Regions from separate parts of the Homo sapiens genome. Here region 2 is linked to region 1. Evidence: fine-mapped expression QTL. A gene starts in region 1. The other region holds a variant in brackets. All regions are shown on one strand. Distances are from middle to middle.

The links. PIP is the estimated chance that this variant, and not a neighbour inherited with it, causes the effect.
Region 2: its variant is fine-mapped to the expression of CFAP58-DT in blood mononuclear cells (TOPMed, PIP above 0.99).

Annotation. Positions count from the first base shown.
Region 1 is chr10:104,349,204-104,357,545 of GRCh38, reverse strand. CFAP58-DT (CFAP58 divergent transcript) reads left to right here and starts at 3,971. Exons shown (of 2, transcript NR_108036.1): 1 at 3,971-4,428; 2 at 5,619-6,245. CFAP58 (cilia and flagella associated protein 58) reads right to left here and starts at 3,713. Exons shown (of 18, transcript NM_001008723.2): 1 at 3,640-3,713. The coding sequence starts at 3,648. RefSeq lists enhancers at 3,984-4,043, 5,321-5,430, 5,451-5,500, 6,259-6,318, 7,549-7,668 and 1 more.
Region 2 is chr10:104,382,853-104,391,194 of GRCh38, reverse strand. All of the region lies in intron 9 of CFAP58 (cilia and flagella associated protein 58), which reads right to left. Among named protein-coding and RNA genes, the nearest start is that of CFAP58, 33 kb to the right of the region's middle. The variant T/C (reference allele first, on the strand shown) is at 3,528.

The sequences.
Region 1 (8,342 bases):
TTTTCACTGGGCCCTGCTTCTTATTGCCCCTAAGACTGCAAAGGGCAGCGGGGGGTGGCCACGGTGTGTTGAGGCCAGACATAGGAAGATCTTGGCATAGATATCATGAAATCACATATACAGTGAAACTCACCTGAAATATGCACTTATCTCCCAAAAGAGATTCCATCATTTTTATTCCTTAGAAATGTAGGCTAGGTCATGCCCCACAGTGTCCTAAAATGCCCCTGTGCAATACTCATGGGACTTTTCCACATTTGCTTTCCATGGTTAGATGGGCAACAAATTATTTCAAAATATAAGCCCAGACATATAGATATAATTCAAGCAAGTCTGGCTATTACTTAGATGAGAACCTAAGAGTGAGTTATATCGGGATTCTTATTTCTCTACTTTTAGGGGTTGAATTGTGTCCCCCAAAAAGGTATTTTGAAGTCCTAACCCTGCTAATCTGACCTTATTTGGAACAGAGTCATTTAATAAGTTAAGATGAGCTCAGACTGGAGTAAGCCACCCAGTTTGTGGTGCTTTGTTATGGCTGCTCTAGCAAACAAATCCACCTACTTCTTGTTAGCTACAACATAATAATGAAGAAGAATGGGTATGGTTAATATATTTATTCATTCATTGAGCAAGTATTTATTGAACATCTGCCATACATAAATTCTATGATGGATTGGGAATAAACAGCTTATCCACAAGATGAGTAATAAACAGCTTATCCACAGGGAATTTATACTTAATTGCTGGTGGGATATGAATGCAGTTAATGAAAGCATAGAATTTGATCCCTATCATAAAATGTATTCAAAGTTCTCTATGAACCCACAGAAAGAGAATTATTCCCAGCAGCAAGAATAAAAAAAAAAATCTCAGAAAAAAATTGGCATTTGAGCAGGCCCAGAAGGAAGCTAGGGAGTGAGGGACACACAGTGAAGACACTGAATTACATTCAAAGGAGTACGGATTGCATTATTCTGCAGGCCACAGGGAACCACTCAAGACTTTTGAGCAAAGGACTCATAAGGCTTGCAAGGCCTTACTTACGTTTGCAACATTATGTTTTAATATTCTACTCTACAAAGGGCCTTGGCATCAACACTCTCTTGCTAAAAGAAACCAACTGAAACAATCTGTAGTCCCAATAATAAAGTAAAATTTCAATTCACCCTGAAGATTTTAAGGAGTCTAGTTTACCTTCTGTTTTGACAAGCCCGTCTTGCCCAATATGGAAAAAGTCTACGTATTCTTGGTTTTCGAAAACACTTGTACTATTAATTAAATCTCTAACGATGACATGCAAGCAAAACAGTCTTTGTAAATTAAAATAAATGTAGAGTCACAAGCATATCTATAGCATTTTGTATAACAACTTTAGTACTAATTTTAAATTCACATAGGTTTTTCTTCCTGACTAAAAGCAGATTATTGCAAAGACCACAATGTAGTAATTCCACAAAGGAGGAAAAACCATATTAAGGAAATACGGTGTTGCTGCTGTTCTGTTCTTCTCCCTTGTTGATGCTAAACATAAGCACACACAAAAATTTGTCACTGCACTGTTCTTGGTTCCATCCCTGTAAATGGTATTAACGTCAACACTTGATCAACAGCCTAATGATTTGTTAGCAGTCCAAGTTTTACCTGTTTACCTGGCACTTAGCACAGGAATGGAAAAATACCAAAGAAGGAAAAGTTTTAAAGAAACTTTTAGGAACAAAAGAGATTTGTTCCTATTGTCATTAAAAGCAAAGGAAAAATAATCTCTTAGCTTTGGCCAATAAACAGTTGATATTTCCACTGTTATAACATATAATGGTATCTGTTTCAGAAGGATGAAATCAACGTGAACTGATCAGAAAGGAACTGTGGCATTTCTTTATTCTTCACCTATTCACTGATTGTTTGCTATGTGCCAGGCACTGTCCTGTCCTAAGTTCTGGGAATATCAATTAGTGGGGAGAAGGAAAAGGGAAAAGGAAAAGAGAACTGCAATATAAGATGAGGCCAGAGGGGAAATAGAGAATTGTGAAAGCAGAATCGAGAAAGTTGGCTGAGGTCAAGTAAGAAGAAAAGTAGAAGAAAGGAAGAAACGAGAGGAGTAACAGAAAGAGGGAAATGGAAATAACTAATCCATAATAGTGGAGCAGCTTCTGAGGCCGGCACCTGGGCAGGGTTCCTCACAGAAATATGCAAATATATCCTGAATAGGGCAGAGCCAAGGAAATGAGGGGCTGGTGCCTCTGGGAGGCTGGGGCTTCCCTATGGGGAATGAAGAATGAAATAAACAAAGATGACTGGTGGGAGAAAAGAGGAGAAAACACTCAAAAGCAATAATGGGACAATAAAGAACTAGAAGGAACAAGAAAGGAAATGGGAAGAAAGAGATACAAATGACTATGGGTAATGGGGAGAAGTGAAGTGGCCACAGCAGCATGGATGTCAGAGAGAGATGTGAGTGATGGAGCCCAGGCGTGAGGAAGATGGATGATATGAAAGAGATCGTATGATAAGGAAAGGAAGGAGGTGTTGACCACGGGAAGACGGAATTTATAAAGCTAGACTGGAGATGGAGGAAAAGCAATGATGAGGGGATGTGAATGGTGCAGAGGAAGCAAGAGAGTAACTAGAATGGGGTGGGGAGGGGGTGGAGCACGATGGTGCTGAAAGATGATGGGGCTTGGGCTGGCTTCATGGGAGTGAAAACTGGTCAGTTGCACAGGGCCCCTTGCTCAGAAAGGCCCCATTCTTGGTTGAATGCTCTGCTGTTCTGTCTTAAAATTATTTGTAATTTTTGAAGAGACTTTGTGTTTTCACTTTGCATCAGGCCTTGCAAATCATGTAGCTGGTCCTGGCTGGAACAGACCGTGGGATGGGTGATGGGGGAAGGGCTCTGATGGGGCCATGAAGGATTTGGGTAGGGCCATAGTGGATGGGGACTGTGAATGGCAAGTAATGACAGGGACCCGAGGCTCTTGAGGTTATACGTGAGGGGGCTAAGGGGCAGGCAGGGAGTCACTGAAGGGTTGCAGAAATAACCCCTCATTGGAGAGGCTGAAAATGGGGTGTACTGTAATATGGGGGAGTGGTGGGGTGATACGAGATGTTAACACAGGAGTCAATGAACACACGGGGCAGAGGTGATGGGCAGAAGAGCCTTAATGAAGCTGTGTGACAGCAGGTGATCACATGTTAGGAAATCAGGGTGTGACAGGTGGACAAGGGCCATTGATTGGGATGACAGCAGGCATCTGTGAAGCTTTCTTCCCGGTTTCCCCTGTGAGATAAGACATCTCCAATATTTCTGTGTGAGCCTCTCTTATGGTATCACTCCATGACTAAAAATCTAGGGCTGGGTGCATGTCACGTGTGGATTTCAGAATTCATTAATTTTCTACCGCACTTAGCATAGCGCCGATGCCACAGTGGGGATAGTGGGGTGTCCACACAAATGAAGGAGAAACAGGAGGTAAAGAGGCCAGAGCCAACGGAGAAAGGCGCGGGAGTGAGTGAGGGTGCAGGGGAATAAGATGTTGATGGGGGGAAATATTGGAATCACCGTTTGTGACAATCGTCAGTAGGAGAGGGACAATGGGGAGGGGTCAAGGGAAAGGCGACAGAGGGGCGCTGACTCCTGACCTCAGCCATCCTGATGCTCTCTGGGGGCGGCCTCAGAGGCTGCTGTGGAGATCGCAGGAGCTGGGCCGGAGTCTGGGAAAGAAGCTAAAGGCGCGACGCGCTGTCTCTATCGCCCGCCCCGAGCGGAAACCCGCGCTCGGCGCGTCGGCCCGTCGCCTGGCAACGGACACGCCCTCTAGGGGCGCTAGCGGGAATTCGAAAGGGGAGGAGCTTCTGCGGCTGGCACCTGGGCAGGGTTCCTCAGAGAAATATGCAAATATATCCCAATGGGGCGGAGCCAAGGAAGTGAGGGGGCGGTGCCCCTGAGAGGCTGGGAGGAGTCCCACGGTGTGGGCAGATGGAGACACCCAGGAGAAAGAAGAGGGCGAATTGGAAGAGGCCACCCAGAAAGGACGGTGTGTGACACTAGGGAGCCAAGCATGGAGAGCCGAGGACTAACGCTTGGAAGGAAATGTGGACCAGAAGGTTCCGGATGAGGGAAGGACTGGCGGCTACACTCTGCCTTCCGAGACAACGAGGAATAATCTCACTTCAGTCAGTTCAACCCTTGTAAAACAGCTACTGTGTGCAAGACACGGAGGGAAAGCTGAAGTAGAGAAACCACAGACGCTGTCTTCAAAGGGTTTAATCTAATATTAGTGATGAGAAAAATAGGGTGCAGAGCTTAAGGCATCCTGGAAAAACGTATGTAGCGCCACATCGCGAAAATCTCTCTTCTGGGACCCCTCTCCCAAAAACGTTTCTTCGCCCTCTTCTCCCCCTTCTGCCTCCACTCTTTCTGGACTTCAGGTACAAATAGTTGAAATAATTATACTCCTTGGTTCATGAAATGTGTAAGACTCCTCTCTGGTTTTATTTTCCCCCTTTATCCCCATCCCTACTCCCAACCCCTATCCTCAACCCCATAGGCATTCATGCTGCTGTGCTTCCATATGTATTTTTGGGAAATGTACAAAATTTTTATCAGTGTATTTTTTAAAAATGTTTAAATAATGCTACTGGACTTTGGAGATTATCTTATTTTCTACTTTTTTCACTCAACATTCTTTTTAAGGATCTGTCCTCGTTGCGATTGGCAAGCATATAGTTCATTGCTTCTGAGTACTGCACAGCGTTTCATAAGGGGCATCTACCACACTTCACTTCCATTCCCCAGGTGTTAGGTAACAAGGCCGCCTCTAATTCTCCAATACATCAAGTAATACAGCCATGATCGTCTTTGTCCGTGGTCCCTTAAGGACCTCTGTGCAAATTCCTCTGAAATATATGCCAAGGAGTAAGATTGTTAAAGTTATAGGGATGCACAGGGACATTTGCTTATGCAGCTGCGTCCTGCACAAACACATCCAGCCATGGGGCAATGGAGGCTGAAAAACTGTCTCTACTCTCTTTCCCGTGCCATGTGCCCTACTGGAGAAAGGTGTGCACTTTTTATTCTCACAAAATCTCTGTACGCCAGCCAAGTCATGAACCTAGAAGGCTGTAACTATCTAGAGGGTGTGATATTTTCAAACTCATCTGGCCAGATGAACAGTTTTCCAAGAGCACAACGATGCCCAGTAGCCTAGTACAAGCCCTGGGTACTTACCAAGCACTTTAAGATTGTGTACCAGAGTTACTGCCCTACGCTGCACTCCAGTGTGGGGTTTCCATCCAACACTTCCATCCATCCCTTCCAGAAGGTGATAGGTCTTTTTTATTAAACACTCATAAAGTGTTTAGTAAATACCAGATACTATTCTAAGTGCTTTGCAAATATTGACTCATCTAATTAGCTAATTTTCTAATTTCTGTCAATATGATGAAAGTAGTGTAAGCTCATTTTTTGCTTTCATTTTCACTTCTCTAACTACTAGTGAATTTTTTGACCATTTCTTTATACATTCATAGGCTACTTGAGATTCCCTTCTGTGAACTGCCTTTTCAGTGTCTGTGTCTATTTTTCTATTGATCTTTTTTCTTTTTCTTTTGATTTACAGATATCTTTGAGAAGCCTGGACATCAATCTGCTTTAGAAGACTAGAAACTCTGCCTTTATGTCTTTAAGGGAACAATAGTCCTTAACTTTGATACTGTGGCTCTTTAGCTCTTTTTTTCCCTATATTTTTTATATAGTTTTTTGGTATTATTTAGACCTCCTTAACCCCACGGTCATAAAGGTATTCTCCCATCATTTTTTTCTATCCATTAGCTTCATAGTTTTACTTTTTTACATTCAGTTATCTAATCCATCTGGAGTTCTCCTTCCCATATGGTGTGAGATAGGGATCTAACTATATTTTTCTCCATGGGGTGAGCAAATTTTCCAACAACCCATGTCAAACAATCCATTCTTTCCAAATTGGTTTGGGGAAGTTTCCAAATAGACATGAGTATGTTCTGAGCTCTCTGGTTTGTTCATGTGTCAGTACCACAAGGTTTTGTCACTGTGGGTTTTTAGTTAGTCATCATGCTTGAAGGGCAAGTTCCCCATTCCAAATTCTTCTGTGTTAAGATTGCTTTGTCTATCCACGGGCCTTTATCCTCCCTTATAATGTTTAGAGTAAGTTTGTCAAGTTTATGAGAACTGTGTTGGGTTGATGAATAAATGCAAGGAAAACTGGCAACTGTGCAGTGACATCTCATTCATGACCTGACACTGTATATCTGGTGGACAAAAAGAGGGAAATGTGGCTGAGTCATAATGTGCATGGAGGTTGCTGGAGAGGTGGCAGATGAACTGGAGAGGCAGGCTGAACCACACTGTAAGCCAAGCTAATAGAAATGAGCTTGAAATGGGACAGGCAACCCAGCTCAGGCTGCTTTGTGTGTTCACAGGAAACCTGATTACACATTGGGACCATCGGTTTGTAGGATTGCCATGATCCAGAGAAACTCCATAACATTTCTGAAAGTATATAACAAAAATAAAGACCTAGAGGGCCCTGGTCACCCATACGTTGCACTGATGTCAAGTGCAGGGCTGTGTGTCTTCCCATGTCCAAGGGATCTCCTAAAAGAGCTTTCATAAGTAGGTGCCCTGCATAGGTGACAGCAGTTCAATCCAGTAAACAATTTTTTAAGGAACGTACTGCATGGTAGGCACAAGGCTGCCCACAGGAAGCACCAAGGTGACTATGGCAGAGTCACTGCCCTTTGCATTCACAATCTGTATTAGGGGAAAGACAGAAGGGAACATCTACAGTTAATTCTAATGCAATAAGATGGTATCATTTAGTATATGCCATTTTAACAGAAAGCACAATGGGAGCTCAGAGAATCTAGATACTGGTATCTGAGACCTTACTTATAGGAGGACAAAAAGACCCAAATATGACTGAGCAATCAAAGAACCACAAGGAGGTAGAAAGGCGCGTGACATGTTCAGCTCATAGGAAAGAGATGCAGGGGGCATCAACACAGATGGATGAATGGATGAAAGGATGGGTGGTCGGACATATCAATTTATGCTGATGAAACAAAATGTTTGATTTCCAATTTTCTGGATTACAGAAGACTAGTCACCACCCTGCTCCCCTGTGTTGTTGTAATAACAAGAATCACTAGGTGGCATTATAGTATCAAAGTCCTCACCTTTCAGAGCCTCTAGGAGAAACACACCCAACAAGATCGCGTCAGCCCCTAATTTAGACAAATGAGTGCTTCTATTCATCTCATTTCTCATTATATCCACTTAATTTATTTCTTGAGCACCTACTATATGTCCAGCCCTATGTTGCATACTGTGGAGAGAGAATACAAAAGGAGTTGAAGACACGATCTTCTCCCTTGAGGAGCATCAGGAGAAGCAAATTGTGCACGCCAACACTCCCCTTAAAAGATTTTCTGACAACAGTCCGAGACAGGATATAGTAAGCACTGAAATGAGGATGTCAGTAAATAAGGTCCTGTGTAATCTGGCCCTTTCGACTTTCTGGTGCCAGCTCCCATCACTCACTCCTTGTTACACTGGTTCTTTCAATTCCCTGGGTAGCCATGCTCTTTCCCACTGCCTGGAATTCACAAATGCTGATCTTCCTGTCTGGAATACTTGACTCTCTCTCTTTCTCTCTTCAGCTGGCTGGCTCCCATCCAATCTTCTTTCAGATCTCACTTCTTCACATTACTTTCAGTCTCACTTCCCCAGACTACCTTTTCCAGCATTGTGTATTCTACTTCTTGCATCATCCCACAGTGGTAACTAATGGCCTAGTCATGTAAATAGTTGCTTAATACCTGTGTTCCCTACCACACCGTCAAACTACAGGAGCTCTAAGATGATGCACGTCTTCTTCACCCCTGTCTCCACTGGTGTTAGGGGCTGAATTGTGTCCCTCCAAAATTCATAAGTTAATGTCCAGATGCCCCCTACTTCAGAATGTGATGGTATTTGGAGATAGAGCCTTTAAAGAGGTGATTAAGTTAAAATAAGGCCGATCAGACTGGTATCCTTACAAGAAGAGGAAAATTGGTCACACAAAGAGACACGAGGTATGTGATGTGTGCACAGAGAGGAATGACAGTGAAAAGGAGACTATCTGCACAACAAAGAGAGGGGCTTCAGAAGAATTCAAACCTGCTGACACTTTGATCTTGGACTTCTAACCTCCATAACTGTGAGGAAATCAATTTTTTTGTTTGTTTTGTTTTGTTTTGTTTTGTTTTGGTGTGGAGGCGTTTGAGACGGAATCTCACTCTGTTGCCCAGGCTGGAGTGCAGTGGCA
Region 2 (8,342 bases), 34 kb before region 1:
CTGCCATCCTGATATTCACCATGACTCAGGTGTGGGCTACTTGTGAGCAACATGTTCCCAAATTATTGCACTTACAAGAATCCGTTTTTTCCACTTGCAGAATTGCCATCCCAGAAAATACATAAATGAGAAGTCTGGTTCTATTCTTTCCCTATCAGAGTTAATGATGGCTATGATTTTAAATATTTATCCTTTATATATTTAAATAAGCACCTTTCAAAATTTTTTTACAGGTGCTTAAGGAGGGATGGGATTGAATTTTAGTAAATGTCTTTCAATGTATATAATTTTGTACTATTCTTTCTTATTGGGTCAATTGATTTGATAAACCTAGTAACAGATTTTTCCTTTTAAAAATATTTTAATTTCTTTATATATAGTTCCATGTGCCACAATTTAAAATAAATTCATAAATGTGAAATATACATTTATTTTCCTTATTTACTTGAACTTTCTCCCTTCAACATCAGCCCCTCTTCTACACAAAACAAAACTAGGTTAACAATCTACTATGTATTCTTCCATATTTTTCATTGGATTCTGCATATTCTATTCAGGTCTACAACCTAATAATAATAGCTAATATTCATCAGTTACCTTCTATGTACCTGACATTTTATATGTATTAGCTCCTTTAATCTCTCAAAAATCCTCTAAGATATGTACTATTATTGCCCCCAATTTTACAAAGAAGGAAACAGATCAAAATAAGTAATATTTACAAAGTTATTCAATGAGTAAATAGACAACTACACAGATTTGTTTGTTTTCTGTTTGGCTTTTTGGGGTTTGTTTTTACTTTTTAGCCAAATGGGATCTTATAATTACTCTTAATGCACTTTCCTTTTTATCATCAAATAATACCTTGTAGAAATCATCACTCTAATTCATTCTCTTTAAAGGTTGCATAATATCCTATAGAGTGGGTGTGCCATCATAATTTAATTCTTCTCCACTGATGGGCATTAACTTTGTTTCCACTTTTTTGCCACTCTGAACCATGCTACAGGAAACATTTTTGTATGTGTATTCTCATGCACTTGTGCATTTATTTCTGTGGGATGGATTCCCAGGAGTAGAATAGCTGGCTCAAAAGACATATATATTTTCAACTTTAATAGATATTGCTAGATTGCTTTCCAAAATGGCTGTAACACTTTACATTTCCACACCACCAGCAATAGCTTTCTTAATAGAAAACTATCCTTGCAGCTTCAGGATAAACCCTCCTTGTTCATACTGGATGATTCTTTTAATGTACTGTTGAATTTGGTTTGCTGGAATTTCATTTAGGATTCTGCATGCATTTTCCCAAGTGAGCTAGGCCTATATCTTTCTTTTTAGTTCTTTTTTAATCTCAAGGTTTCTGTTAGTTTCATAAAGTGAACAGAGTACAGTATTGTTCACTTATTCATTCACTCCCCCATTTATTCATTCACTCCATGAACAGGTACTGAGGACCCATCTATGGCAGGCACTGTAAAAGCACGCATGATAGAAAGAAGAATAAGACACATTCTCTACCCTCAAGTTCACTTGTAGGGTGTGACTTCACCATAGAATGGATAATCAAGGAATGGATATAACCAGTAAACTGAGATATGCACCAAGTGTTATGGGAGAATCTAAGACTGAAAGGTTAATGCTTAATAGATTGAAAATACTTTGAACAGCATCATCAGCATTCAGAATATCAAGCAGCACGTTAGAGAAAGGAAAAAAATTGTTTGTTCAGTCACTTTCAGAGATGTTAGAACAGGAATAATTCTTTGCACAGGCAGAATAATGCCACAGAGAAAGGAGGTAGCCAGGGGCATTTCTTTTTTGAGCATCCAACTAGCATGGTCTGTCTTTCTGCAGACAACATGCACAAAAGTCACAAACTTGCTTCTGGATCCTTGAAGCTGGAGTAATAAGAACCCGTCAGGACACCAAGAAGATAAAAGGAATTAACAAATATTGAAACGAGCAGAAAAGACAATTTACAAGCAATGTATTTCTAAGTGTTGGGACTCGGTTTATTTTTATGGAAATCATTCAGGCCAAAGTCATGCAGAAGTTCAAATCCTGAAAATTCATAAAGTATATGGGTGTTAAGTAGTAGCCAAACCTCTTGTCAGCAAGCTGTCCCCATTAGAAGTGGTATGTCAGAGACACAGGCTGCCAGCTGTGGGGCTGGAGCTTAATTAATATACACTTTGAGATACCTCAAACCAACTCATGAGATAAATCACATCCAAATATAGAAAGTTTTATTACAGCCAGAGAATTGGTGCTCCTGGCACTCCTAGGCTTCAGGGGAGTCCAGAAAATGCTTACAGTGCACGACAGAAGTACAGCCTCAGTTTATAACCTACTCCTACCTTTTCTGTTGCCGTTAAAACAACCTGCCAATAGAAATAAGAGTGAGATAGAAATCAATAACGCATACAGGAAAACTGCAGCATAGCCAAAACATCACATAGACCAAGGTGGGATTAGAAAGTAGGTCATTGCATTTGGAACCCCTTAATGTACATTTGATGAAATATCAGTACAATAAACTTCTCCAATAAGTTTTTCTGACTTGATGTCAATGGTTTGAATGCTGACAATGCTTTTACCTTCATAATGAAACTGAAAAACTCACTCTGCAATAATAGAAAACAACTATGCGCCCTGGCTTGCGAAATGCTGAGTCTTCCCTATTTTTCTTGCCTTGTTATTTTACCCTCTATCTTGAATTTAGAGAGGCATATCTATGGCTTTGATTCAATTGCATAACATATTATATTATGAATGGGGGATATAATAATATCTATCTCACAGGGCTATTATGAGGATTTAAGTGAGAGAATATATGTCTACGCCAGCATATAAGTACTTAGCATATAGTAATTTAATCATTTAATAAATGCTAACAAATTATTATGATAGTTTACACTACGTCACGTTACATAATACTAGTACTTTAAAAAGTTAATTTGATTTTCCTCCGAATCAAATCCTGTTCTGCAGGAAAAGTAATGATATGAAGCATGCTTCTTTTATTATGATAGAAAAAGCTTATAATTTGTGTTCCCTTGATTCCTCTCTCCAGGATTCTACCCAATTACAGAGGCTCTGTATAAAATTCAAATTAACATCAATGAAACAGGAGCTTTATTTCATTATGAAGATATCTATCTAGTGGACAATATTTCTTTAATCAATTTTTGGTTTCTTTGCTTGCATTAAGTCCTTGAAAGCACATTATTATTCATTTCCTGGAATCTCTGTCCTGAAGAGCTTTGCTTGACAGTGTTATAGGCAAATGAGCAAAGAGCTAGGAAATTTGTTGTTAGGGATTTGTTGCAAAAGAATGTTTTCTGGCATATAAAATGTCTGCGAGGTGACTGCCAGAAGTTTAATATTTGAAATGAAAAAAGAGGGAGATCCTAAAATGAGGCAAGTGCATCATGTGAAAAATGTTCAGCAGATTTAATAATTTACTAGGAGTGGTTTTATCTAGAACATGTAAAAGTTCAGAAAGCAGGAAATATGGTAGA[T/C]CACAACTTACCATGCCATTTCTCATGCCTCTCAATTTATCTGAATAGTGAAATTTAGAGTGCAGCAAAGGAAAATCATGAGGATAAAAACTGCTGTAATCCTGGGGTAGATTATCTTACGGTTTAACAAATGTTCACTCTCTCCCCTTGTCCCACAACCTAAAGAGAGAAGTGCATTTCCCTTGCTGTTGATGTTAGCCTTGGCCATGTGACTCGCTATAGCCAATGGGAGGTCAGAATATCAGACAAGTAGAGAGACATGACATGTGCCTGTATGCGTGGCTTTGTCTCTTGTTCTCCTTCCTTCCCCCATGAGAAGAACATGCACGTGGAGGATAAGAAACATGTGGTCCAGAACTGAGCCCAATCCACATCCCAGAGCCAAGTCCAGGCAAGCCCAGTTTAGGTCAGCTGAACCTCTGTCAACTGCAGGTGTGTGAATAAGAAATAAGTGCTTGTTTTTGTATCCCACGGAGATGTTGTGGCTATTTATCATGCACTATTATTATTGCAAGTGTTGATGGAGACAAACACATAGGAAAAGGTTTGGGATTCTGAGCCATCCAGTTCAGGCACAAAAGGGGATCTTCTTCCTCACTGGCAAATGCCAAGCTAAATGAATACAATATAATGTAGAAGTTTAGCATCTTCAAGTTCACTTTTCTTTCTCTAAGCAAGAAAGAACACGAAGGCAAATGTTGATGCTGTTTTGCAGCTCAGAAGGAAGAAGAGACCAGGTCTGGAAGTCACTCACAGCTAAAAATGCCAATGATAATTCAGATAAAATCATCCATCATGGTAACATGTTTCACATGAATTTAAAGGAAGGGCAGACCCATAGTCACAAGTAAATATATTGTTAGAAAATAACTTGATACAGATACTTAAAAGTGAGCCTCTGACTAGTTAACTCAGATGTCCAATTATGCTTTCCATTCATTCTTAGTTCAAAAAATATTTGAGTATTTACTTAGTAAATAAGCAATATGAAGAACTCAAAATTGAATAAGACTCGCCCCCAAGAAGCCAGTGTGTAGAATGAGGCAGACATACACAAGTAACAGTTACGTGCACACGGGCCTCCTCAACTGCCAGAGGGGAGCCAAGTACAGAGGAATTAGAGATCACTTTTAATAAAGCTTCTTGGGAAAGGTGGAATTTTATTTGGTCCCTGAAAGAAAGGCAAGGTTATTAATAGTGTTTATTTATTTTTTAAATCAGGATACTAAAGTAATACACAACCATTTTACTTTTTCTTATTTTTATTTATTTATTTATTTTTTTTTTTTTGAGATGGTGGTTCACTCTTGTCACCCAGGCTGGAGTGCAATGGCACAATCTCAGCTCACTGCAACCTCACCTCCCAGGTTCAAGCGATTTGCCTGCCTCAGCCTCCCAAGTAGCTGGGATTACAGGTGCCCACCACCACTCCCAGCTAATTTTTGTATTTTTAGTAGAAATGGTGTTTCACCATGTTGGCCAGGCTGGACTTGAACTCCTGACCTCAGGTGATCCACCCACCTTGGCCTCCCAAAGTGCTGGGATTACAGGCATGAGCCACCATGCCCAGCCCATCCATTTTAGAATAGCTAAAAAAAAAAAAAAGCAAAAAAGGAACAAATTTAAACAATTTGTATCCTTATCACCCAAAGATAACCACTATTAATATGTTAATATGGTTCCTTCCACTCATTTTCCTATTAAAACAAAAAAGGGTAACTAGGCATCTATCTGCTTTTTCTTCTTGCCTAAATTCTCAGAGAATTTTTCTTCATTATTGTAGATGAAACACACACACAAAAGGGCTTTCCTCTAGGGCAAGTCTACGGAGAGTCTCCTGTCACTGATTTTGCCTGGAACATGGTCAGCCTGTACAGGTCTTTCTTCATCTCCAGAAAATATTTTCCCACTACATCCTTGACCAGGGGCTCATTTCCATAATCAGAAACCAACTCTCTGTAGGCTGGTTTCTATTCTCTGCCCTCTTCTCTCTTATCTTCTCTATGATCATTTTTGTAGAGACCAGGTCTCCTATGTTGCCCAGTCTGGTCTTGAACTCCTGGCCTCAAGGGATCCTCCTGCCTCAGCCTCCCAAAGTGCTAAGATTACAGGTATGAGCCACCACACCTGGCCTGATTCCATTTTCCACAACAATCAATTCTGTTCTTTACTAACTTTGGTGTGGATTTTAAATCTGCCTTTTTTTTCTTTTTTCTTTTTTAGTTTTTATACAATTGATTCTTATTTTGTCCAACTCTTCCTTTTTATTTCATCTTTGCTTTCTCCTAGCAGTAACGCCATGTTGGATTTATAACTCAGGTGATAGTCCTGTATTCTACTGGGGTCACCTTGTCCTTTACAACAACAATAAGTCTAGACTTTCCATTCTATGTGCTGGGAAGCCCCCAAACCCTCTAATATCTCCAAGAATTCTTGGAAGAATTGCATTTCTTCTACTTGCTGTGGCTCTGGTTTGCTGTTGCCATAGCATTCTAGATTCTCAGGTGCATCTTGTCTCTTGCACATACTGTCCTTTTTCTGGGATGTGTCACCTCACATCCTCACCACCCCATGCCTGTGCCACCAAAGTGCAATCACAACGCAGGGTTGATGTAGCAGATTTGCCACCGGAGGTTTGAGGAACTTAAAATCCAATATTGGACATCACTGTTTTCTGCAATTCCTCCATCATTCCTGTCTTAGGGAACTCCTCACTTCCAGCAGCACCCAGCCTACTGCCTTGATGCTGACATTGTGTGCCCTCCTCTCCCATTCTTCCCTATCTACTCCCTATTTCCTGCTCACCACCCACTCCTCCTTTCCCACTTCCTGTTACTTTTCTCACATGACTGTTTCACTCTGGTTCATGGAGCCTCACCTTTCAAACCAAGGCAAATATCAAGGTATTTTGCTAAACACTGTTCCTCCCACAAGGGGAAACTTGGCACCAGGTTTTATGTACTTACAATCTTTGAAGGAAGCCAAACCTTTTCTCTGCATTTTCTTCTATTAGGTTAAGAACCTTATGAAATCGCTGATAGTCAGTTGTTTCTTACTTACCACAAAAAGGCTATTTCAAAGAGTTCAACCTAAAGTTCTTGCCATAGAAGCATTTTCAGAGCCAGACCTTTACCGTGGGGCTTCTAGAAGCCATTCTCTTTCTTTGGTTCTCAGGCATGTTTTCCCATAGGCTCCATTAGGCTGCTTTTTTCTTTATTCGTTCTTGAGCAAGACAGGATTTACCACAACCTAAGAACAATGCTACTAAGGTGAAGGGGTTTACCTTTGCCCAATTCTTAGTACCCTAGGGTGGTGGCAGATCCACTTTCAAATCTACAGCTGGAAACACAGTGACATGCCAAGTCCCAGTCCACCTCCCAATTTCTAATATTCTTTAGTGATATTGGAGGAGCCAAATTAGGTATGTCTCCAGTCCTTTTTGTATGCATACAGACAAAACTGGAGACAAACTCTACAAATAATTTTGCATTGTCTTTCTCAGATTCATATTAGAAACATGTTCCCATCTTTAAAAATAATTTGCAAACACATGATTTTAACAGCTACATAATACTATGTCAAATAAATGTAACACAATTTATTTAACCTTTCGGGGGGCTGATTCCTAGTTCTCATTATTATAAATTATGTTTTGAAAAAATATTCTTTCATATAAATCTCTCCATTTCTTATTTTTCATTAGATTCAGTTTTTTCTTAAAAAGGAAAATTCTGGGTCAAAAAGATAAACTTGGAACAATGTATACTCACTTTAGAAGTAGAAGAAAATGTCAGTTTCATGACATCTTCCCCAGCCTTTGATATTATTTCTCAATACTCTACAAATAGAATGCACATAAGGGAGCTTTTCGTTTGTGAGAATGAGTGTGTGTGTGTGTGTGTGTGTGTGTGTGTTGGACAGTAAAGAAAGAAAGAAATATGAGAAGAGGACAAAGAGACATACATATCCTTAAGAAGTCCAGAGATGCACAAGTTGCGTAGCAACTGATACATGCTGTCAGGGGTTAAGCAAGACACAGAAAAATTGTAGGTGATAAGTAATATTTTAAGAACTTGTGTTTAAATTATTTAGGTAAGACATTATGTGTGGTTAAATATCAGAACTTGTGAAAAACAGTTAACAAAAAAACTTGGTATCCGAATCTCTCTTTTACAAGGAAGCCAAGAAATATATACAATTGTATATTAAAATCAGTGGCAGCATTCTTTTTACCACTTATCATCTATCCATTTGTTTAACAAATACTTTTTTGGTGTCTCTCATGTGCCAGGATGCTAGAAATAAAGAAATGAATGAAATAAAGTCCTTGCCCCCAAAAGCTCACTATAAAGTGGATAAAACAAATATGCAAATAAATAATTACACTATAGATTGATAATCATCATTCCAGAGACATTAACAAATCCATAAAAGTACGAAGTGACAAGCTCTGCCCATAAGGAACCAGAGGGAGCTTGACCTGAGCATTTGAGTTAGGTCTCGAAGGGTGAATAGGAATGTGCCATGCAGAGAAAGGACAGAACTTTCCACAGAGAACAAAGAGGTTGGACTCTATCCCATTAATGCAGAGTATCCCAACTGCTGTGCCTTTCATGGGTTTCAGATGTGTGCTAAAATACTGATTTTACTATACCCACAGGATGGCCAGGTGGGACCTGGGCAGCTGGCATCCCTGGATTGGTTCCTCCAGCCCCAAACAGCTTCATCTCCTTATTCCCATGTGCCACTGACATGTGCATTAGTCCATTTTCATACTGCTACAAAAAACTTCCCTGTGACTGGGTAATTCATAAA